2 separate regions of the Homo sapiens genome follow, and region 1 is linked to region 2. The links come from fine-mapping of genetic effects on gene expression. A gene starts in region 2. The other region holds a variant in brackets. All regions are shown on one strand. Distances are between the middles of the regions. Region 1 has its middle 25 kb from the start of CSPG5. Region 2 holds the start of MAP4 (microtubule associated protein 4).

What was found. PIP is the estimated chance that this variant, and not a neighbour inherited with it, causes the effect.
Region 1: its variant is fine-mapped to the expression of MAP4 in whole blood (TOPMed, PIP 0.97).

The regions. Positions count from the first base shown.
Region 1 is chr3:47,547,347-47,559,462 of GRCh38, forward strand. No RefSeq gene overlaps it. Among named protein-coding and RNA genes, the nearest start is that of CSPG5, 25 kb to the right of the region's middle. The variant C/T (reference allele first, on the strand shown) is at 6,375.
Region 2 is chr3:48,010,273-48,022,388 of GRCh38, forward strand. It overlaps MAP4 (microtubule associated protein 4), which reads right to left and starts at 6,144. Exons shown (of 21, transcript NM_001385682.1): 1 at 6,062-6,144.

The DNA of each region.
Region 1 (12,116 bases), 460 kb before region 2:
CTCTGCCTCCTGGGTTCAAGCAATTCTCGTGCCTCACCCTCCCGACTACCTGGGATTACAGATACCCCCCACCATGCCCAGCTAATTTTTGTATTTTTAGTAGAGACTGGGTTTTGCCATGTTGGCTAGGCTGGCTTCGAACTCCTGACCTCAGGTGATCTGCCTGCCTCCGCCTCCACATCCAGCTACTCAATATATTTTAGAAGGCTGACATAACCTTGATACCAAACACCCAACAAAGATAGGCAGGTTATAGGCCAATCTAACTCATTAACATATATGCAAAGACTAAAAATACACTTTGGCAAATTTGATCTAATAATAATTTGAAAGGTTAATGCATCTGACCAAGTTAGGTTTATTCCAAAATTACAAGATTGGTTTAACATTTGAAAAATCAATGTAATTTTCTGTATTAAGCAAATAAGTTAGGAAAATTACATGATTAGCCTAATAGATGTGGAAAAGCTTTTGATATAATTTAACATCCATTAAAATTAAAACTCTTCAAAACTATGAATAGAAGAGAACTTTAATGTGATAAAGGGTAGCTGCAAAAAAAGCTTACAGCAGGCAGTCTTAATGATGAAATGTTGAAGGCATTTTTTCTCTTTGAGATTGGCAATGATATGAGGATGTCTGCTCTCACCATTATGTATTCTTAAGGTACTGAAAGGTCCTGGCTAGTGTGATATCCAAGAAAGAGAATTAAAACGTGTAAGGATTGTAAAGGAAGAAACAAAGCTATTATTATATGGAGATTACATGATTTTATACATAGAAAATCCCAGTGCACTGTGGGAAGCAGAGGAGGGAGGATTGCTTGAACTCAGCAGTTCGAGATCAGCCTGATAACATAGCAAGACCTTGTCTCTACTAAAAACCAAAAAATGTAGCTGGGCATGGTGGTGGGCATCTGTAGTTCCACCTACTCAGGAGGCTAGGGTGAGAGAATCGCTTGAGCCCAGGAGATCAAGGCTGCAGTGAGCTGTGATTGCACCACTGCACTCCAGCCTGAGCAAAAGAGCAAGACCCTGTCTCAAAAAAAAAAGAAGAAGAAAAGAAAATCCAAAAGAATGTATGGATGAATTATTATAAGGGTATTTAGCAAAGTTTGCTGAATACCAAATCAATACTAAAAAATAATTGAGCTTCTTTACAAAAAGCAGTATGTATGTTTCAATATGAAAAGCAATATATAACTAAAAAATTAAAAACTAAAAAGTTGGCTGGTAGCAGTGGCTCACACCTGTAATCCCACCACTTTGGGAGGCTGAGGCAGGAGGATGGCTTAAGACCAGGAGTTCCAGCTTACAGTGTTATTTGTGTGTCACTGCAGTCCACCCTGGGTGACAGAGTGTGATCCTACCTGTAAAAAAATAAAAATTAAATTAAAAAAAAAAACCAAATCAGCCGGGCTCAGTGGCTCATGCCTGTAATCCCAGCACTTTGGGAGGCTGAGGTGGGCGGATCACCTGAGGTCAGGAGTTCGAGACCAGCCTGGCTAACATGGTGAAACCTCATCTCTACTAAAAATACAAAAATTAGCTTGACGTGGTGGTGGGTGCCTGTAATCCCAGCTACTTGGGAGGCTGAGGCAGGAGGATCGCTTGAACCTGGGAGGTGGAGGTTGCAGTGAGCTGAGATATCCATGATATCTTTTTTTGAGACTGTGTCTCAAAACCAAACCAAACCAAACAAGAAACCCCAAATTGTATGGTATGTGGCCTTTTGAGTCTGGCTGCCTCTGCTCAGCTTAAGGTTTTTGAGATTCACCCATTTGATGTAGCTCATACTTTTTTTTGTTGTTAAATAGTATTCCACTGTATGGCTGTACCACAGTTTATCCACCCACAGTTGGCATACTTTGGGTTATTTTTTGGTTTCAGTTATTTTAAAGCTGCTAGCCCCATACATATGCAGGTCTTTGTAAGGACATGTTTTATTTCTGTTGACTAAATATTTAGAAATGCAATTACTGGGTTCTGTACATGTTTACCTTTATAAGAAACTGCCAAATTGTTTTCCAGGGTGGCTATACCAACTTGCTTTCTAAGCCATGTTCCAGTGGCTCCTCCAGTCCTCTTCAGCACTTATCTTCAGCAATTTTTTTTTTTTTTGAGATGGAGTTTCGCTCTTGTTGCCCAGCCTGGAGTGCAATGATGCGATCTTGGCTTACTGCAACCTCCACCTCCCAGGTTCAAGCGATTCTCCTGCCTCAGTCTCCTGAGTAGCTGGGATTACAGGCGCATGCCACCATGCCTGGCTAATCTTTTGTATTTTTAGTAGAAATGGGGTTTCACCTCGTTAGCCAGGCTGGTCTCAAACTCCTGACCTCAGGTGATCTGCCCGCTTCAGCCTCCCAAAGTGCTGAGATTACAGGCGTGAGCCACTGTGCCCGGGCTATTTAGCCTTTTTAATTTGAGCAATTCTAGTGGGTAAGTAGTGGTATCTTACTGTAGTTTTTATTTGTATTTCCCTAAATACTAATGATATTGTGCATCTTTTCATGTGCTTATTTGCTATCCAAATAACAACTTCTTCCCCTTCCCCTTCCTCCTCCTCCCCCTCCCACCTCCCCCTCTTCCTCTTCCTCTTCCTCTCCTTCACCTTCTCCTTCTCCTTCTCCTTCTCCTTCTCCTTCTCCTCCTTCTCCTTCTCCTTCCCTTCTCCTTCTCCTTCTCCTTCTCCTTCTCCTTCTCCTTCTCCTTCTCCTTCTCCTTCTCCTTCTCCTTCTTCTTCTTCTTCTTCTTCTTCTTCTCCTTCTCCTTCTCCTTCCCTTCTCCTTCTTCTTCTTCATCATCCGGGTCTTGCTCTGTTGCCAAGGATGGAGTGCAGTGGCACAAAATAGCTTCACTGCGGCCTCAACCTCCGTGGCTCAAGCAATACTCCCACCTCAACCTCCCTAGTACCTCAGACTACAGGTGCGCACAACTACGCCCAGCGAATTTTTGTATTTTTTGTAGAGATGGGGTTTTGCCATGTTGCTCAGGCTGGTCTTGAACTCCTGAGCTCAAGCTATCTGCCTGCTTTGGTCTCCCAAAGTGCTGGGAATACCTTTTTTTTTTTTTTTTTTTTTTTTACAGGGTCTCACTCTGTTACCAGGCTGGAGTGCAGTGGCACAATCTTGGCTCACTGCAACCTCTGCCTCCCGGGTTCAATTGATTCTCCTGCCTCAGCCTCCTGAGTAGCTGGGATTATAGGTGTGCACCCAGCTAATTTTTGTATTTTTAGTAGTGACAGGGTTTCACCATGTTGGCCAAGGTAGGGAATAACTTCTATGGTGACTTTTTTGTTCAGATCTTTTGCTCATTTGAAATACCAGGTTGTCTTTTTTTGTTTTTTTCTTTTTTAAGACAAAGTCTCTCTCTGTCTCCCAGGCTAGAGTGCAGTGGAGTGATCTCAGGTCACTGTAGCCTCGACCTCCTGTGCTCAAGTGATCCTCCCACCTCAGGATACTACCCCCAACCACCCTGTCCCCGTCTCCCACCAGTAGCTGGGACTATAGGTATGTGCCACTACACCCACATAATTTTTGTATTTTTTTGTAGAGATGACATTTCGCCTTGTTTCCCAGGCTGGTCTCAAACTTCTAGGCTCAAATGATCTGCCTGCCACACCCTCTCAAAGGGCTGGGATTACAGGTGTGAACTACTGCACTTGGCCTGTTGTGTTTTTATTTTCATTCAGTTTGAAATATTTTCTTATTCTTCTTTAGGAATTACTGAGTGTTTGAACTATAGGTCTAAATGTGTTATTTAATTTCCAAATGCTTTGAGGTGAAAGTTTCCAGATATCTTTGTCATTGATTTCTAGTTTACTTCTATTATAGTCAGAGAGCATGCTTTGTATGATTTAAATACATTTACATATATACACACAGTTTAAGAGACAGGGTCTCCCTCTGCTACCCCAGGCTAGAGTGCAATGGCATGATAACAGCTCGCTATAGCCTTGAACTCCTGGGCTCCAGTGATCCTCCTCCCTCAGCCTCCTGAATAGCTAGGACAACAGAAATGTGCTACCACACCTGGCTCATTTAAATTTTTGAGGAATTATTTTATGGTCCAGAATATCATCTGTCTTGAGTAATGTTCTTTGTGCTCTTGAAAATAGTATGTATTGTGCTGCTGTAGGAAAGAGTGTTCTACAAATATTGATTAGATCATATTTGATTGTCTTAATTATGTCTTCTATATCTTTATTGATTTTTGGTTGCCATGTACTGAGGGAGGGTGTTGAAGACTCCAATTGTAACTGTAGTTTAGCTATTTTCTTTTTTTTTTGAGACGGAGTCTCGCTCTGTCTCCCAGGCTGGAGTGCAGTGGTGTGATCTCGGCTCACTGCAAGCTCCACCTCCCGGGTTCACACCATTCTCCTGCCTCAGCCTCCCGGGTAGCTGGGACTACAGGCACGTGCCACCATGCCCAGCTAATTTTTTTTTGTATTTTTTAGTAGAGACGGGGTTTTCACTGTTTTAGCCAGGGTGGTCTCGATCTCCTGACCTCGTGATCCACCCGCCTCAGCCTCCCAAAGTGCTGGGATTACAGGCGTGAGCCACCGCGCCTGGCCTTAGTTTAGCTATTTCTCCTTTCATTTTCATCAGTTTTCACTTTATATATTTTGAAGCTGTCAGGTGCATATACTTTTAGAATTGTCTTCTTGATGGACTGATCTTTTTATCACTGCATAATGTCCCTCTTTGTCCCTTGTTCTGAAGTCCATTTTGCTGTTGCTGTTGTTGTTGTTGCTATTTTTGAGAGGGGGTCTCGCCCTGTTGTTGAGGCTGGAGTGCAAAGGCATGATCATGGCTCACTGCAGCCTCTTTCTCCTGGGCTCAAGTGATCCTCTCACCTCAGCCCCACAAGGAGCTGGGACCACAGGTGCGTGCCACCACACTCAGCTAATTTTTAAAAATATTTAATAGAGATGAGGTCTCACTGTGTTGCCCAGGCTAGTCTCAAACTCCTAGGCTCAAGCAATCCTCTCACCTTGGCCTCCCAAAGTTCTGGAATTACAGGCGTGAATCACCACACTCGGCCTCTGAAATCTATTTTGTCCGTTATTAATATAGTTGAAGGAATTCTTCATCTCCGATTTTGTGGTGGTCTTTTTGTTGTTGTCTATTTCTAGCGTTTTCATGACTCCTTTTTGTAGTTTCTGCCTCTGCTCAAGTTCCCCATCTTTTATGTGTTTCGTTCACCTTTTCCACTAGATCTTTAAACATATTAATTAGTCTCTGTGTGATAGTCCCATCATCTGGCTCATCTCTGGCTCTGATTGTTTTGTCTCCTTTATCACTTGATAAGTTCTTTCTTTTAAAAAAAAAAAAACCAATAGAGGCCTAGTTAAATAGTATATATGCCCAGAGACGGATGTGTCTCTCTCTTTTTTTTAAGATGGAGTCTCACTCTGTCACCCAGGCTGGAGTGCAGTGGTGCGATCTCAGCTCACTGCAGCCTCTGCCTCCCGGGTTCAAGCAACTTTCTTGCCTCAGCCTCCTGAGCAGCTGGGACTACAGGCACATGCCACCTCGCCCAGCTAATTTTTGTATTTTTAGTAGAGACGGGGTTTCGCCATCTTGGCCAGGCTGGTCTCAAACTCCTAACTTCAGGTGATCCACCTGCCTCAGCCTCCAAAAGTGCTGGGATTATAAGCGTGAGCCACCACACCTGGCCGATAGATGGATATGTCTCTTTCTTCTGTTTTGCTTTCAGTGTAAGGGATTGAGTTGGTCCAGCTGGTACTAAATAGCAGAGCTGGGTTTGAATTTTGTTGTTCCTATAATTCCTCCAAACATGCCAGGTGTGGTGGCTCACACCTGTAATCCCAGCACTTTGGGAGGCTGAGGTGAGAGGATCATTTGGGCCCAGGAGTTCAAGACCAGTCTGGAAAACATAGCAAGACTCTGTCTCTAAAAAAATAAAAAATAAATTAGCCAAGCATGGTGGGAGACACCTGTGGTCCCAGCTAATCATAGAGGCTGAGGCGAGAGGATCCCTTGAGCCCAGGAAATTGAAATTGAGGCTGCAGTGAGCTATGATCGCGCCACTGCATTCCAGCCTAGGCAACAGAGCAAGACCCTGTCTCTAAAAAAGAAAAAACAAATGCCTCCACTGGTAGGCTACTTCTACCTTTTGATTAGCGTGAGGCCTGAGGTGCTGGAGCGTTCTGCTCAGTGTTTCTGCTCTGCCTACACTTTCGGCAGGCCCTGTATGCCTGCACGTCAGAGAAAGAGGCCTTCTCTTTATGCTTTTCCCACTCGTCCAGCTGTAAACTGTCGCTGCATGTTAATCAGGGCCAGTCCTGCGGTGGGAGCAGCTTTTCAGTTTTCCTGGTCCAGCTTCAGGCTTAGGCAGATGTTGTGCTCCTGA[C/T]TCTCAGGGTGGGACTCTCTTACCTTTTTTTCTTTTTCTTTTTTTTTTTTTGAGACAGAGTCTTGCTCTGTCACCCAGGCTGGAGTGCAGTGATGTGATCTCGGTTCACCGCAATCTCTGCCTCCCGGGTTCAAGCGATTCTCCTGCCTCAGCCTCCCGAGTAGCTGTGACTACAGGCACGCACCACTGTGCCCAGCTAATTTTTGTATTTTTAGTAGAGATGGAGATTCATCATGTTGGTCAGGCTGGTCTTGAACTCCTGACCTCAGGTGATCCACCTGCTTTGGCTTACCAAAGTGCTGGGATTACAGGCATGAGCCACAATGCCTGGCCTTTTTTTTTTTTTTTTTTTTTGGAGACAGAGTCTTGCTCTGTCGCCCAGGCTGGAATGCAATGGCATGATCTCAGCTCACTTCAATCCCCGCCTCTTGGGTTCAAGTGATTCTCCTGCTTCAGCCTCCAGAGCAGCTGGGATTACAGGTACACGCCACCACACCTGGCTAATTTTTGTATTTTCAGTAGAGACGGGGTTTCACCATGTTGGTCAAGCTGGTCTCAAACTCCTGGGCTCAAGTGATCCACCCGCCTCGGCCTCCCAAAGTGCTGGGATTACAGGTGTGAGCCACTGTGCCCGGCAGGGCTTTCTTGGCTTTCTTGCCCTTCCCTTCCTTGGCAGCCAAACTCTGGCTTGTATCCGTGGAGGGCTGGGTGGGAGAGTTTTCCGCCCCTCCCTCAGTGGTGGCCGGCTTCTGCTTTGTGTCAGGGCAGGGTTCTGGGCCCAGGAAGGTTTTCCCCACCTCCACCAGGTGGATATGTCTTTGCTTTGACCCCTGCCTCTGTGACAGTACCTTTGCTTGGAACTGATGGCAGGAGAGGTTCCTGCCCATCCCCCAACAGTTATTTGTGGCCAGGCTTGTAGTGGGGAGAGGGTTTTGCTGCACCCCTTCCAGAGGCCGTTGATTTTTTCAGGAGGGTTTCTTGTCCCTCCTTCGGCAGCTTAAGGCTTTTGCTTGGATTGCTAGAAGAGTCTGGAAAATGAGTGGGGTTTTCTTCCTGTGCACCTCTGACTGGTGTTCTCAAGTCTCAGACCCATTACCCAGTTTTTTTCTTTTTGTTTTTTGTATTTATTTTTCTTTTGAGAGGGGGGCTTGCTGTCACCCAGGCTGGAGTGCAGTGGTGCAATCATGGCTCACTGCAGCCTTGACTTCCTGGGATGAAGTGATCCTCCCGCGTCAGCCTCCTGAGTAGCTGAGACCACAGGCACACGCCATCCCTGGCTAATTTTTTAATTTTTAATAGAGATGGGGTCTCACACTGTTGACCAGGCTGGTCCCACCCAGTTTTTCCTGTGAGCACCAAACAGGCTTGTGGAAGAGGCTGTGCATGGCTGCACTCTCGTATCTGGAGCTACAGGGATTCTGACTGTTCTACTCTTCACACTCCACCTTCACACATGTGCTCGCATCCTAACTGTCTTTCTTCCTGCTTTTGTGGTGTTGCGTCTTCCTCCTGGCTCCTGCCTTGGATAAAGCAGCCCCTGTGTCCTCTCTGGCTTAGAGGGGCTTGTCATCCTTTGGAATTCAATGTATCTGGTTGCCTCGTGACCTCAACACTTTAATGGGCTCAAGAAGTTGTGATTGTGTAGGTTTTCTGACTTTTTTCTTGCTATTAGGGTATGAGTGACATTCTCATGTGACTTTCAGGTGGAAACAATGCTTCAGGAATGATTTTATAACCATAAAGGAAGATGGATAAATTTGACTACATAAAAACTAGCTTTAATATTAACCTAATAGTGTGAAATTAGGAGTCATAAATAGGAAAAAAATTTGCAACACATATAAAGAATAAAGGGGCTCATAAACAAGATATTTAAAGAATGCCCTTGAATCATTAAGAAGAAGATAACCTAAAAGAAAAATGGACTCAAGAGTTAAGAAAGTACTTCACAAAAGCAGAAATCCAGATTGCTAATAAACATATTAAAAGCTGTGCAACCCGGGTGCAGTAGCTCACACCTGTAATCCCAGCACATTGGGAGGCTGAGGCGGGAGGATCACTTGAGCCCAGGAGTTTGAGACCAACTTGAGCAACATAGGGAGACCCCCATCTCTACAAAAAATTAGAAAATTAGCCAAGTGTGGTGGCACATACCTATAGTCCCAGCTACTTGAGAGGCTAAGGTGGGAAAAGCCTGGCCTCAGGAGGTTGAGGTTGCAGTGAGCCATGATTGCACCACTGCACTCTAGCCTGTGCAACAGAGCAACACCCTGTCTCGAAAAAAAAAAAGCTGTGCAATCTCATTAATAATTAGAGAATGCGAATTAAAATCACTATTACTTGCCACTACATTTTAGCCAACAAGAATCGCTAAAATTGACAAAGTATAAAACTATCAAGCACTGCTATGGATGTGGAGCAAAGGCAGCTCATCCACTGTTGGTGGAAGTCATTCACTGATACAACCACTTTTTTTTTTTTTTTTTTGAGACAGAGTCACACAGGCTGGAGTGCAGTGGCGTGACTTCAGCTCACTGCAACCTCCGTCTCCTGGGTTCAAGAGATTCTTCTGCCTCAGCCTCCCAAGTAGCTGGGATTATAGATGTGTGCCTCCATGCCCAGCTAATTTTTCTATTTTTAGTAGAGACAGGGGTTTCACCATGTTGGCCAGGCTGGTTTCGAACTCTTGACCTCAAATGCTCCTCCTGGCTTGGTCTCCCAAAGTGCTGGGATTACAGGCATGAACCACCATGCCCAGCCTGATACAACCACTTTTAACTATGATCTTGTAAAGGTGAAGATAAGTTAAATTCCACTCTAGCAATTCTGCTCCTAGGTATGTGCTCCAGAATTGCATGCACATGGGTACCAGGAGGTGAATGCCTCTGATCGTCACATTCTTCTTCTGGTTTTGATAAACCATTGGCCAGAGTGTTACTTAGTCTGGCTGGCCATCTGAGTCCTTAGGGTAACTCTGCAATCTTGTTCCCATGTACTTTGTGTCATCTCATGGTTATACACTCAGAAGACAGTATTATTTCCAAGCTTGCTTTAGAGGAGTTCCTCACTCTTTCCCCATAGCTGGTTGTATGCCTGCAATGAACTCTTGGGCTGAGGAAAGAGCTTCTGCTGTAGCACCCAGCAAGGGTGGTATTCCCACACTCCCTGCTCCTGGACCAGTGAAGCTGCCCCTATTCCCCTGCTGGTACCCACCCTTTCCCTTGGGCCTGGAAAACCCTGAATGAATTTCATGACACTGAGAAATACACTTCATAAGGCAAAGTTTTTGGTCTGTTTTCTTCATTGCTATATCCCTGATGCCTAGCTAGTCCTAGAAAAAGGCAAAGATTCTATAGATGAAAAGCCTTAGGTTCAGAAAGCACATGGCTCCTAAACAGAGAGAACTTCTAGCTCCAAGTTCAGTGTTTAGTGCTGCTTTCTGGAGCACAGATGAGACTTTTCACCAGGATAAATTATCTGAGAAAGGACAAGGTCTCCAGAGGACTCTTGCCAGGCCTGTGGATCACAATCATCAAGAAGCACAAACACTCCGGCAGGAAATAGGACAGGCACAGATGGAAATCAATATACCCTGTTCTAACACTTCAGCCCCTTCTTTGGATCAAAGACTCTTGGCAACATCCAGTAACTCTATTCCACAGGCCTACACCACCTCCTGCTCCCCTTCTGATCTGGGCGTTCCTATCCCTCCTGCATTGTGCTGGGTAGGTGAGACAGAGCCAAGGGCTTTGACACATATTTCATAACACTCTTGTGGCAGAAACAAAACAGAGCACAACACTAAGAAACCCTTATGTCTGGTTGGGATCTAGTATTTACAAAGCACTGTTTTTTGTTTTTTGGAGACGGAGTCTCGCTCTGTCGCCCAGGCTGGAGTGCAGTGGCGCAATCTCAGCTCACTGCAACCTCTGCCTCCCGGGTTCAAGCAATTCTCCTGTCTCAGCCTCCCGAGTGCTTTTTTTTTTTTTTTTTTGAGACAGAGTTTCGCTCTTATAGCCCAGGCTGGAGTGCAATGGGGTGATCTCGGCTCACTGTAACCTCCACCTCCTGGGTTTAAGTGATTCTCCTGCCTCAGCCTCCCGAGTAGCTCGGATTACAGGCGTCTGCCACAATGCTTGGCTAATTTTGTATTTTTTCTTCGTAGAGACGGAGTTTCACCATGTTGGCCAGGCTGGTCTTGAACTCCTGACTTCAGGTGATCCGCCCGCCTTGGCCTCCCAAAGTGCTGGGATTACAGGCATGAGCCACCACGCCTGGCCTACAAAGTACTTTTATATCCAGTCCCTCTTGATTGGGCCTTCTTATGAAAGGATCCAAAGGTACTTAACCATGAAAGTTAACAGAGTCCAGGAAGTCCTAAGCAGAACCAACGAGCTGTCCAAAGTGGGTAAGAGATATGGTTAGGAACCCATGACACACGTCCCAGTATGCAGCCCTATGCCACAGCAAAGAGCAGCCTGAGCTCATGGCGCCAGCTAAACACCATCTGGGTAAAAGGCCCAAGATGAAAACAGAGGACTTCTGTTGTTAGTAAATGGGAGGCTAGGTAAATTGTACCAACTCTTGCACTAGGAGCCAAAACATTTGAAAAGCATCAAAAAGCTAACAAGATACTAAAGAATTACTAGGCTAACATCCCAGAGAGGACACGAATCCAGACAGGTGAGCCCAGCGTTTGGGCCACTTGGACCTGGAGGCAACTGCCCATTTAGCAGAGGTGATGGAGAGAATGGGTTGTGTTTCTGAAAGTTTTGTAGAGCTGGGCAGGGGAAGCTGGAGTACGGGGCCTACCAAAGGTGGGATACTGGTAAACCACTGCCTGTTTTGAGGTGTGACCTGAGAGGATTATACCCTAGGGTTAAGGATAAACCAGAAGCAAACCAGCCCTTGCATAGTCTGACAGGTCTGTGGGTTGGTTTCAGTGGCTTAGAAAATCTCCAACCTTGAATCTGGATTACTGTGACCCCAGAATTCTAGAGCTCCTGGGTACCTGACAGAAGCAAATAAAATTCCTCTCTGGAGGGAGAAATCGTCCTAGGCTTCAAAATACTTTAATAAACAGGTTTTCAAATACGATGTCTAGCACAAAGTAAAAAATGAGGCACATGTGAACACACATCAGGGAGAACCAGCAGAAATTAGGTGACAGAAACACACAGGGATTCCAGTTATTGGAATGATCACAGATTGAACACAGGCAAAATGTTCAAGAAAACTCCTCCAGTTGTTGGTAAGTCTGGCTATTTGAAATCTTCACTCTCTAATCTATCCCCATTCTACAACCCCCATCCTCAATCTGCCTTACCCACTGTCTCCAGAGTTGTCTTTACACAAAACAAATCTGACCATCCTTCAGCTCTGTGCTTAAATGGCATTCAAGGCTGTTTGTAATCTGTCCTAAATTGCCCTTTTCAGCCTCGTCATATACTCATCATATAGACTACTTTCCTGAGTATTCTACCTTTGCCTTTAATGCCCTCATCTCCTATTTTATCCTGAAAAATGCCTCCTTATCCTTCAAAGTGCAATTTAAACCTCCTCTCTTTGAAGCCTTTCAGAAAAATATATATATGTGTGTATATATATGTATATGTATAAAATGTATATATATGTGTGTGTGTGTACATATATATATATATATATTTTTTTTTTTTTTTTTTTTTTGAGACGGAGTCTTGCTCTGTCGCCCAGACTGAAGTGCAGTGGTGCGATCTCGGCTAA
Region 2 (12,116 bases):
GCTATGACCACGTGACCAGCTGCAGAAATGAGGACTGTAACTGCCATGAGTATTTCCTCCTTCATTTGTTAAAAACATGTTTGTGTATGTATACACATGTACTAATATCTTCACTTTATATTTCCTTTTCCTTTATCATGTGACATAAGATTTATTGATTTCATAACAGCATTTAAGTATTATTAACTTTATGTAATAGTATTTGGGTTGGGGATTGGTGTGTTTCTGGTTGTATGAAGGATAGTTTTATTACATTAGGTGTAATTATGACCTTATTATTGTCTTTATTTTAAGATTACATACGATCTCAGATGTATATGGGTTCAAGTTGACAAGGAGTGGACTTGTAATGTTAATACTGTCAACTTGATTGGACTGAAGGATGCAATATTGATCCTGGGTGTATCTGTGAGGGTGTTGCCAAAGGAGATTAACATTTGAGTCAGTGGGCTGGGGAAGGCAGACCCACCCTTAACTGGGTGGGCACCATCTAATCAGCCACCAGCGAATATAGAGCAGGAAGAAAAACATGAAGAGATGGGCCTAGCCTCCCAGCCTATATCTTTCTCCCGTGCTGGATGCTTCCTGCCCTCGAACATCGGACTCCAAGTTCTTCATTTTGGGGACTCGGATTGGCTCTCCTTGCTTCTCAGCTTGCAGACAGCCTACTGTGGGACCTTGTGATCACGTAAATCAATACTTAATAAACTCTCCTTTGGAGATATATCCTATTAGTTCTGTCCCTCTAAGAGAATCCTGACTAAAACAAGTAGTGTGGGGCTCGTGACAAAAACTGATAGCTTTGCTGCCAAAGGGGCTCCTGTGGCATGACAGAGCTGTTGTCCACAGCAAATGCCATCTCACACTACTGGAATTATAAATTCCACTATTTGAATAACCACTGCCGAATTCAGGATTTAGCAGCTTTTCTGAAGGAACCATAAATAGGAATTCAATGGTTCCTATAGTAGGAACTGGACTTGGTAATCCCAGCCTGTAATCTCCCAGCACTTTGGGAGGCCAAGGCGGGTGGATCACTTGAAGCCAGGAGATTGAGACCAGCCTGGCCAACACAGTAAAACCCTATCTCTACTAAAAATACAAAAACAGAATAACTAGCTGGGCACTGATTTTTATTATTTAGATGGTATGCACCTGTAATCCCAGCTACTCAGGAGGCTGAGGCAGGAAAATTGCTTGAACCCAGGAGGTGGAGGCTGCAGTGAGCCAAGATCACGCCACTGCACTCCAGCCTACGTAACAGAGCAAGACTCCGTCTCAAAAAAAAAAAAAAAAGTTCCTATAGTAGTAGTGGCACACCTGTGACCCATTTACAACAGACGAATGTGGGTGGGAAGCCCTATTCTATGCTCGTCCAGCCTACTTTACATATAAAGTATTATTGTAACTCCAGATCATGACAGGGAAAATGCTGAGAAATGAGTTCATTAAAGAGCTTTTAAAAGCCTAACAGATTATAATGTCAAAGGGTTCCATGAAAAGCAACTATTCAGTTGCTTTTACTATTCGGTTATGCCATTTCCCTATTCTATCTCTGACAACTATTATTAGTAGTTATCCTTTGGGAGCTGTTATGAACCAAAAACTAAAAAGGACGTCTGTAACTAGTTTTGATAGAGGCAAGAGGCAAACAAATGTCTAGGCAGACAGGGGCGGGTCCTCAGTGAAACCCGAACTTTAATCCGGAAACTGTCCTGGGTAAATCCTGAGATCGGATTAAGAACCTGCCTTCCCGTTTGGCATGATTGATCCCCATCCTTCACCTATTTAACCTGTACCTACCCTTTCCTAATTGGTTTTCTACACTGTCCTGCCCACCTTGGAGTGGTGTCTTCGCTTTGACCTTTTTTGCATACTCACAAACCAATGACCACACACTCCCATTCTGAACCAATAAAGAGCCCCAGGCTCAGCCATATTACGGAACTTTCCTGTCTTCAGGTAGTAGAACCACCTACCATGTTCTCTCTTTTTGCTAAGAGCTTTCCTTTCGATTAATAGATTCTACTCCACTCACTCTTTGATGTCCACGTGCCTAATTCTTCCGCTCCTGAGATAAGAACCTGGACCTAGTTGAGCTAAGGAGCAAAAATCCTGCATCAGTTTCATGGTCAAAGAGAACTTAAAAGGACATCTGTGCCATCCTTAACAACATACCATAAAAATCCAAAATTTAATTTTCCCCAGAAATACATAATGACATAAGATGCAATCTACTCAAATCTTTTCCTCATTTAAGGCACAGGGTAAAAATACAGTCAAAAACACCAATACATTTTAAATATCATTTATCAGAATGCAGATTATCAAAGGGCAGCTTTTATCCATTGTAATCTTTCCCCTATCCAACCCTCAGCACCCCCACCCCGCCCCCAGCCACACACTCTCAGATGACTTCCTGGGCTGCATGTGGTTCATGGAATATGAACAGTAGCTGAAATTCAGCCTAAGAGGGTAAAACTGATAGAAAATTATACAATTGGAAAGTGGGAAGGTCATGAAGCTATGAGCACATCTAGCTAGCCACTTAGCATCTGTATTTCATCAACAGTTAAGCTATTCTTTACTTGTCACCACATAAATAGAATATGATTTTAAAATACACACACACACCCCCTTATGGAAAATGATCCTAGAAAGGTAATGCTAGTGTCATCTTTCAAGTTAAAGTACTGTTGTTTTTTTTTTCCCAGAAATCCCCAGTTTTCAATAAATTAAAGCGATTATCCAATTTTATAGTTATTTTATTCTGAAACATGTATAAGTACAATACACTCTTTAAATGCTCTATAGATGTTAAACTGGTTCAAGTATTCCAAAATTAATTTTAATAAATTCATGTATGAATTTCATCTCACACAGAATCACTTGAAGTTACTTACTATTCGGTTATGCCTTAAATGCTTAGTTACATATTTTATGGATAAAAGGATATGACACTATTATTTTCAAATCTGGATGTTCAGGAGGATCAAAAAATGAACCCTTGTGAATGAGAAGCATTTACTCTAAAAAAAAAACCTCTCACTGACCAATTGACCATTTATACTATTCCTCTTCTATCCATACAGATAATAAAGTTAACTTTAAATAGATTTGTGAGTAAGAGTCAAGAGAATTTGAAAGCTGGGTACAGAAGTCTGTATGCTTTACTGAAGCACCAGTTTAATCTGACACTCACTGTGGCCTTGAATGAGTCACCTTTCAGGGCTGAGTTCTCTAATCTGTAAAATGAGAGTGTTATGTTAAATGTTTACTGAGGTTGATTATTCTATCAGCTACTTGTAATTCAGCTGCATCATTTCAGTTAGCTATAAATAAACCCCCTAAGACCCTCAGTGTGAATATGAACAACTATCATTTCATATTATTTCATATATCAAGTATTCTCATTTATAATTGGGTTGAGGTTTATTAAAAAAAAAAAAAAAAGCTTTTTGGCAAAGGGAGGGACTGAAAACAAATTCACCACTGCATGGTGCCCTGCTTGAGCCAATCTGACTGGAGCTTAAGAAACTCCACCCAGTTCTGGCTAACATCAAAGGAGACTCAACACCACTCTGCCAGAAAATAAGCCCTGTATTATCTAACCAGGCACTAAGGGAACACACAGTTTTCAAGCACAGCACTTTGTATATCTGATCTTTCATTCTGATGACATGCCTGAAGTGAAACTATTAGTGAGCCGGGTTTTTTAAAATAGGTAAACTAAGGCAAGAGGCAACTACATGGCATGATGATAAAATACTCTCTTGACTACAATCTCACTATTAAGAGCTAGGTGCTCATAAACAGGAAATAAGGATATATGATGAGGCCACAGTACTTTGTTGTATGCTTTACTTTGGATAGTTCACAAACTCTGGAATTAATTACTGTACTAAAAATATTTTACAGGTCTATACAGATTAAACAGTGTTAATATCTAACTTAATTACACAGAAGTTCTGAAGAACCTTTTAAGCTCCATGAAGTCCTCCTGAAAATTTTAGGTCATTCGCATCTAGAGCCACTCACTCGGGGTCTGTGCTCATTCTGTCTGATGAGAAATTGGCAATCTGGTTTACCAATGGCCTGTTGCTGTCTCTGTCCTCTTCTATTCACCCCTTGAAAGGTGCTACTATGGGAGCTAAAATGCAGGGAAAAAACTCATGAAAAGCTAGAACAGAGCTTGGGCAAAATGGCAAAACCCCATCTCTACAAAAACATGTAAAAATTAGCCAGGCATGGTGGCACATGCCTGTAGTCCCTGCTACTCAGGAGGCTGAGGTGGGAGGACTGATTGAGCCCAGGAGGTTGAGGCTGCAGTGAGCCACTATTGCACCACTGCACTCCGGCGTGGGCAACAGAGTGAAACCCTGACTCAAAAAAAAAAAGCAAGAACAGAAGCCTGATTCCCACCATCATACTCACTTTTCCTAACCACTGTGTTAGGAAACCTTCATTTTACTGTGTCACATTAGCCAAATTTCTACCGACATTCATTTGCAGTAGCCAGCATTCTCTTTTTAAAAGTATAGAATCCTATTTCTTAATTTAAAAGTGGGTAAGAAAATGTACATCCCTGGAAAGACCATTGTTCATCCCAGAGATGGTTCTATTGAAGATGTCTGAGTTCTTGGTTCTGGTGTGAAAAAGGAAGAAAAATATTATGGCAACATGGGAACTTTCAGGGAATAAAGCAGATATAGATATGGTATCAAAGTAGGGAAAGGGTATACAGGCCCAGGAGCCCTAGGAGGCAAAAGAAAGGGAGTTAATACCATGCCAAAGACAAGCTTGCTATCTTTCAAAATATCGCCTCCTGTCAGTTTCAGCAGAAAGAAATAAACTTTCTTCTCAGTGACCTAGGCTACTTTGAGGCAAATCATTTTGAGTTCCAAACAACCCATTTAATAAACTTTAAATAATTATTACTAAAGGTAGGATACTGCTTATAATGCTCACTTATATTTTCTCTATAACTGATAGCCTGTCCTTTTTGGGTGGGTGGGGGCGGGGGCGGTTATGGACAAGACAAGGAACCATAAAGATATCTGGGTTAATGTTTTCTTTTATACGTTTGTTTTTGCATGACATTTAAATGACAGAGAATTCTAAAGCCAACACTAAGCTGCTATCCTAGGACATTAGTGAGAATGCTGTGGCCAAAATATAGTGCTCATTCCTCAGGCTTGAAAGGAACCCCACGTCGCCAGTGTGGGAGATCATTTATAATCTTGATGGATACAGGTATAGCCTGCTTCATAATAATTTAATATTCAACATCAGATTTTTTTTTAGTATGCCTAGCAGGTTTTTAGTTACTAATTAACTTTATTACCCAGATTTGTTTCTTACTGAACTTCTTTCAGAGGCCTGTTATACATCAAGCTGAACTTTGTCTGGCAGCTGTGCTGTTTTTAATTTATTTAACCACAAAACCTTGATTTATACTTTCAAGCAAAATGATATTTTACTTAAAAATAAATCTTTAGCAAGGATGTCTACAGGAATCAACTACCAACTTACACAGTTCACAGACACATATGATTCCTCAGACAAATCTGAATTTCTCCTGCTTCTCCTCCAAACCAGACTTGCAGATAGCAACAGACAACTGAGGAAGATCTTGACTATCCTGAGCAATAAACTACAACCCCCCTGAAGAATATATTAACTGTCCACCCCTAGGTTCCTCCCTACACAGTTCAAGGACAACAGCTGTGCTATTACAAACTGATGGAATTTCCAGGCTTGACAGGGTTCTGTTCGTAACCACCATTTGTCCTGTTCATCATAGGATTAGCAACAGCAGAGAGCCCTTGATTACTAGAATAGCTGAGGCCATCACACAGCTACATTCCTACATGAAAGAACACACTGATATAGGTTTAAAGAAGTTATATTTTACTTTCATGTAGTTACCAGAGTCCCCCCCACCCCCCATTTAAGGGAGCCCTGTTCTCTGGATATAAAAATACTGTATACACTTGCACACACATACTCACATACATAAAACCTTGCATCACAAAGTTAAAAGGCTACCTTGCTTACTTACAGGAACTATCCAGGCAGCTTGTGTTCAGTCCTGACTAAATGCATTTTGGATCAGGCACCTGCCTTCAACATTTCTGTCCAAATGAATTTCAATCTATTTCTCCAGGAAGAACACACCAGATACCTCCCACTGTTAGCCATGTGATACAGGCAGCATGATGTCTGAAGTCTGGTTACGGTTATGTAGGCCAAAATAAGAAATGACAATGACACAGCACTTACATTTCTGATATCACCAACCTTAAGAATGAATCTTCCATTTTATCTAAATTTTTTAAATGAGTAAAACTTTAAAAGATTCTTAATACCTAACCCCTCAAAATTTTGAAAAAGGAGCATTTTTTTTAAACTTTACATTTATCCCACTTCCTTCCTCTAACACAGGAAAACATTCAGAGTTAATCTATACCAATCCAAAAATTATTTCTAACCACATTCTAAAGGCATTTTTTTTTTTTTTGAGACAGGGTCTTGGCCTGTTGCCCAGGCTGGAGAATGCAGTGGCATGATCTCAGCTCACTACAACCTCCGCCTCCTGGGTTCAAGTGATTCTCCTAACTCAGCCTCCTGAGTAGCTGCGATTGCAGGCATGCACACCACCATGCCTGGCTAATTTTTGTATCTTCAGTAGAGACGAGGTTTCATCATGTTGGCCAGACTGGTCTCAAACTCCTGGCCTCAAGTGATCCACCCATCTTGGCCTCCCAAAGTGCTGGGATTACAGGCATGAGCCACCATGCCTGGCTCTAAAGGCTTACACCAGTTGAACTGATCTAGGATCCAATCCCCTCACTTTAATAGATGGAAAAAAAAATGAGAAATGGAAAAAACAAGTCACTTACAAATGAGGCTGAGACAAAGGATCGGCGAAAAGAGCCACAGAACACCAAAAACAGAAGCAGAGCGTGACAAAATAAGCAAAACCTTACAGTTTTGTAGTTTCTGCTTTTATCTAACACAATGACTTCGCTGTACTTCATATACCTTTTGAATTATACCTGCTTATACATACCTTTACCTACCTACTACTTATACCTACCTATCTTTTCTTCTGCAAGGAGGGAGGCAGGCAGGAAGAATCCTGAACATCAGGAAAACATTCCACCTGATCTTTAAAGGGACCCCAATGCCTAGATGTCTTTTTCTTTTTTCTTTTTTTTTTTTTTTGTAAATCCAAACTCTTACGTGTAATATCAAGGCTGACTGACAAGACTCAGTCCTATCACCCACCATAATCATCAGCAGCTTTCCATGTAGGGTCTCCCTACAATTTAGTCACATGGGACCATCTACCATCTTACATTATCACTGTACACCCTATGCTCATTTGCTCTCCAAACTTGAAGTTATCTTCTCTCCCTCCTCATTTGTGAAAGTCTTGAAATCAAGGTCCACATAAATTGTCTTACCACCTTTTCTGTGACTGCTTTTTAGAATCTTTCTCCCAGTAGTATTCAGAACTAATACATCATCTGTACTTGTAACAGTAGAGTCTGATCTATACTGTAGTTCAGTGGTCCCCAAACCTTTTGGCACCAGGGACAGGTTTCGTGGAAAACAATTTTTCCACAGATAGCAGGAGGGGTGAGAGGGAGGAGATGGTTTCGGGATGAAACTCTTCCACCTCCGATCATCAGTCATTAGATTCTCACAGGAGCATGCAACCTAGATCCATCGCATGTGCAGTTCACAATAGGGTTTGCGCTCCTATGATAATCTAAAACCACTGCTGATCTGACAGAAGGCAGAACTCAGGCACACTTATCGCAAAGTTAATGTAATGCTGTTCACCTGCTGCTCACCTCCTGCCGTGCAGCCCAGTTCCTAACTGGCCATGGACTGGTACCAATCTACAGACCGAGGGTTGGGGACCCCCCACTGTAGTTAGTTGTATATACCAGCTCCTGTAAACTGCTGGGTCCCAGAAGAGAGGACCACATCAAAGTGATGTGCACACCTTCTCTGTTCCTAGTAGACTACAGAGGAGACAGGCCAAAATGATAAAAACCAACAAAACAAGGGGCTAAAAACACATTTCTAAAATGACACGATGAAAGTTATTAGAAATTGAATCTAATTTGAAATTAATCAGAAGTTCCAAAATTACAAAAACTCTTCACAACTAGAAAAAGAATAAACAGATTCAAGGCTGAAAGGTTATCACCAATTACAAATATTCACCTTGGCTAGGTGTGGTGGCTCATGCTTGTAATCCCAGCACTCAGCACTTTGGGAGGCTGAGGTGGGTGGATTATGAGGTCAAGAGATTGAGACCATCCTGGCCAACAAGGTGAAACCCCTCTCTACTAAAAATACAAAAATTAGCCGGGCGTGGTGGTGTGCACCTGTAGTCCCAGCTACTCGAGAGGCTGAGGCAGGAGAATCACTTGAACCTGGGAGGTGGAGGTTGCAGTGAGCCAAGATCGTGTCACTGCACTCCAGCCTGGGTGACAGAGTGAGACTCTGTCTCAAAAAAATAAAAATAAAAAAGAATATTCACCTATTTTCTTCCACTTTCTAAACACAGTTTGTACAAGAGCAAGCATGTTGTCTGGAATTATAGAAAGAAAGCCAGTAAGGAGTAACCGTACGAACCAGCTCTCCATGCTGGTCATCTTATCATTATTAGGCATAGCAATAAAAATAGCTCTCTCTGCTTTTAGAAAAGCATGACATGATGCAATGTGGCAAAAACAAATATTCAAGATGGTCGACCAGTTACTGGCCTGGCATGGTGACTCACACCTGTAATCCCAGAACTCTGGGAGGCCAAAGCAGGAAGACCACTTGAGCCCAGGAATTCAAGACTAGCCTGGGCAAGATGGCAAGACACCATCTCTACAAAAAAAAATGTTTTTAATTAGCTGGGCATGGTGGTGTGTGCCTGTAGTGCCAGCCTCTCAGGAGGCTGAGGCAGTAGGATTCCTTGAGCCCAGGAGCTTGAGGATGCAGTGAGCTATGATTACAACACTGTACTCCAGTCTGGGCGAGAAAGTGAGACCACATCTCTGAGGGACAGAGAGAGAAAGAGAGAAAGATATCAGCCACTACCATCATGTTAATATGATCATATAAATATTAAAACTTTATAATTATTAAAATATTAAATCTCTATAGTTATCAGCTCATATATCTGTCAGAAAGTAATAAGCATATCATGTAACTTTAGGATGACTTAGTGCTGAGGAGATTGGAAGAAAGGAAGAATATTCATACTTGATCAGCTCTTAGCTTTTGAGAACTATTTTATTAAAGAAAAAACTCTCTTTTGGCTGGGCATGGTGGTTCATGCCTATAATCCCAACATTCTGGAAGGCTGAGGCAGGAAAACTGCTTGAGCCCAAGAGTACAAGACCAGCCTGGGCAACACAGTTGAGACTGCGTCTCCACAGAAAACATTTTAAAATTAGCCTGCACACCTGTGGTCCCAGCTCTTGGGAGGCTGAGGTGGACGGATCACTTCAGCAGAGGAAGTTCAAGGCTGCAGTGAGCCGTGATAGCACCACTGCACTCCAGCCTGGGCTACAGAGTGAGGCCCTGTCTTGAAAATAATAGATAACAAAAGAAAAACTTCTCCCATTAAGCAAAGTGAAGTTTCACTCTATTTTATATCAGTGAAAATAAAGAAAAGTGGAAGGTAGAAGAGGACATAGGAATTTGTGCTGCCAATTCTATAATTTTTGTTTTGTTTTGTTTTTTGTGGGGTTTTTGAGACGGAGATTTTTGTATTTTTAGTAGAGACAGGGTTTCACCATGTTAGTCAGGCTGGTCTTGAACTCCTGACCTCAAGTGATTCGCCTGCCTCAGCCTCCCAAAGTGTTGGGATTACAGGTGTGAGCCACCATGCCCACCCTTGTAATTGTTTATTTACAATGTGTGTCCCACCCAGAGTTCCCCTTAACGCTTGAGTTCCTCGATGGCTAGGATAGCATCTTTCTCACCTTTTATCCTGGACATCTAAATATAATAAACTTGAAACCTCACAGGCTCTCATTAAATGCACATTTGTCCTGCTAGGTGCGCTCTGCTCCATACCATACCAGCCTTCTCTTGCTGGGGTTGATGTTTGCACAGCTGGAAGCACCCTCATAGTTCTTCTAAGTATTGGTTCTAGGCACGACTAAGGGTAGAGTAGCTCAGCTTTTCTGAGCAAGAAGGAGAAGATACAAACTCTATGGGAGTACTTAACAAGCATTTTGTAGTCGTGGCAAAGGCCTTACTTTGACCTAATATCTTACAGATGCTTTCAAAAAGGAGGGGGGGAATATCATTATTAAATGAAAATTGAACAGCAAAAGTTGAAGAGATCTTTCAAGTTATTAGTAACATAACTTTTAATATTTTACCTGAAATACAAGTAAAAATCTGAATTAAAAGTATTAAAAAAACAAAAAAAACACGCTGGATCAGAATTGTTCAGGGACAGGGTTAAGCAATATGAGTATTATTTGTTGTTGTTGTTTTGTTTTTTTTAGAGACAAGTCACACTATGTTGCCCAGGCTGGAGTGCATTGGCTAGTCACAGGTGTGCTCATTGTACACTACAGCTTCAAGCTCCTGGGCTCAAGCGATCCTCCAGCCTCAACCTCCCAGGTAGCTGAGACTAGAAGCATGTGCTACTGCACCAAAAATCTCAGTGTTGTTGGTTTTCTTGCAGTAAGGGTAATCATGACACAGAGAAATCTCATTAAAGTTGAGTCCGAGAGGCACCCACAATTGAGGGTCACTGAATTAATCAACAATCTACCTAATCCATTCAAGATAAAATTCACTGAAATGAAATGCAACACAGGATTAATACAACTTAACAATAGAAAGACATCACACTCCCCCTTGTTAGGAAGGTGTTTTAGAATCAGTTTACTAGATGTAGAATCTGAGGCACGGATTTTTGTACAAGTGATTTACTAAGGGAGTGCTTTTAGGAAAAACCTATAAGGTTTTATTTTATTTTAAGGTTTTATGATATTTTAAAGGTATCAACTATCCCCAAACTAATCTATAGTTTTTGTTTGTTTTTGTTTTTTTTTTTAGACAGAGTCTCACTCTGTTGCCCAGGCTGGAGTGCAGTGGCACATGATCTTGGCTCACTGCAACCTCCGCCTCCCAGGTTCAAGCAATTCTCCTGCCTCAGCCTCCTGAATAGCTGGGACCACAGGCGTGCGCCACCACATCCGGCTAATTTTTGTATTTTTAGTAGAGACAGGGTTTCACCATGTTGGCCAGGCTGTTCTCAAACTCCTGACCTTGTGATCCACCTGTCTTGGCCTCCTAAAGTGTTGGGATTACAGGCGTGAGACACCACGCCCGGCCTAATCTATAGATTTAACATAACCCCAAGCAAAGTCCAGTAGGTTTTTTCTTTTCAAATCAAACTGAAAAGTTGATCCTAAGTTTTACATAGTAATTTAAAAAGTCAAGAACAGCTAAGATAATCTTTGAGAACAAACTTAGAGGAACTTAAACTACTGGATATCAAAACTTACTGATGGATTGAACCATGTGAAAATGCTGAAAACTGATGAGTTTCTAACCTATGGCAATGTCATATGTTTGAAACTAAAAATACATAAATATAGTAATGAAAACATTGTGGTACCTGCACAATCACCAAGAAAGAGGCCAATGTACTTGGTGTGCTGAACATATGGAAAAACAAAACAAAACAAAACAAGAGGCCAATGCAAAAAAATGGTTTTGAAACGGAACCACATGCATATGGATACTTAATATCTGACAAATGTGACACTGCAAAATAGTGGGGGAATTAACTGTCTTTTCAATAAGTGGTGCTGGGTCAACTGGATATTTTGAGCTCTACCTCACAGTATATACAAAAAGTAATTCCAGGTGGATGGCAGCCCTAAATGTGAACGGTAAACAATAACATGGCGAATATTTTCATGATCACAGAGGCAGATGAAGAAAACGAACAGACAATGGAGAGAGTAGAGAGACAGGGACAAAAGAAGGAAAAAAGAAAAGCAAAAAGAAGATGATGAGGTGGGAGGATCATTTGAGCCCAGGAATTTGAATACAGCCTCGGCAAGGTGGCA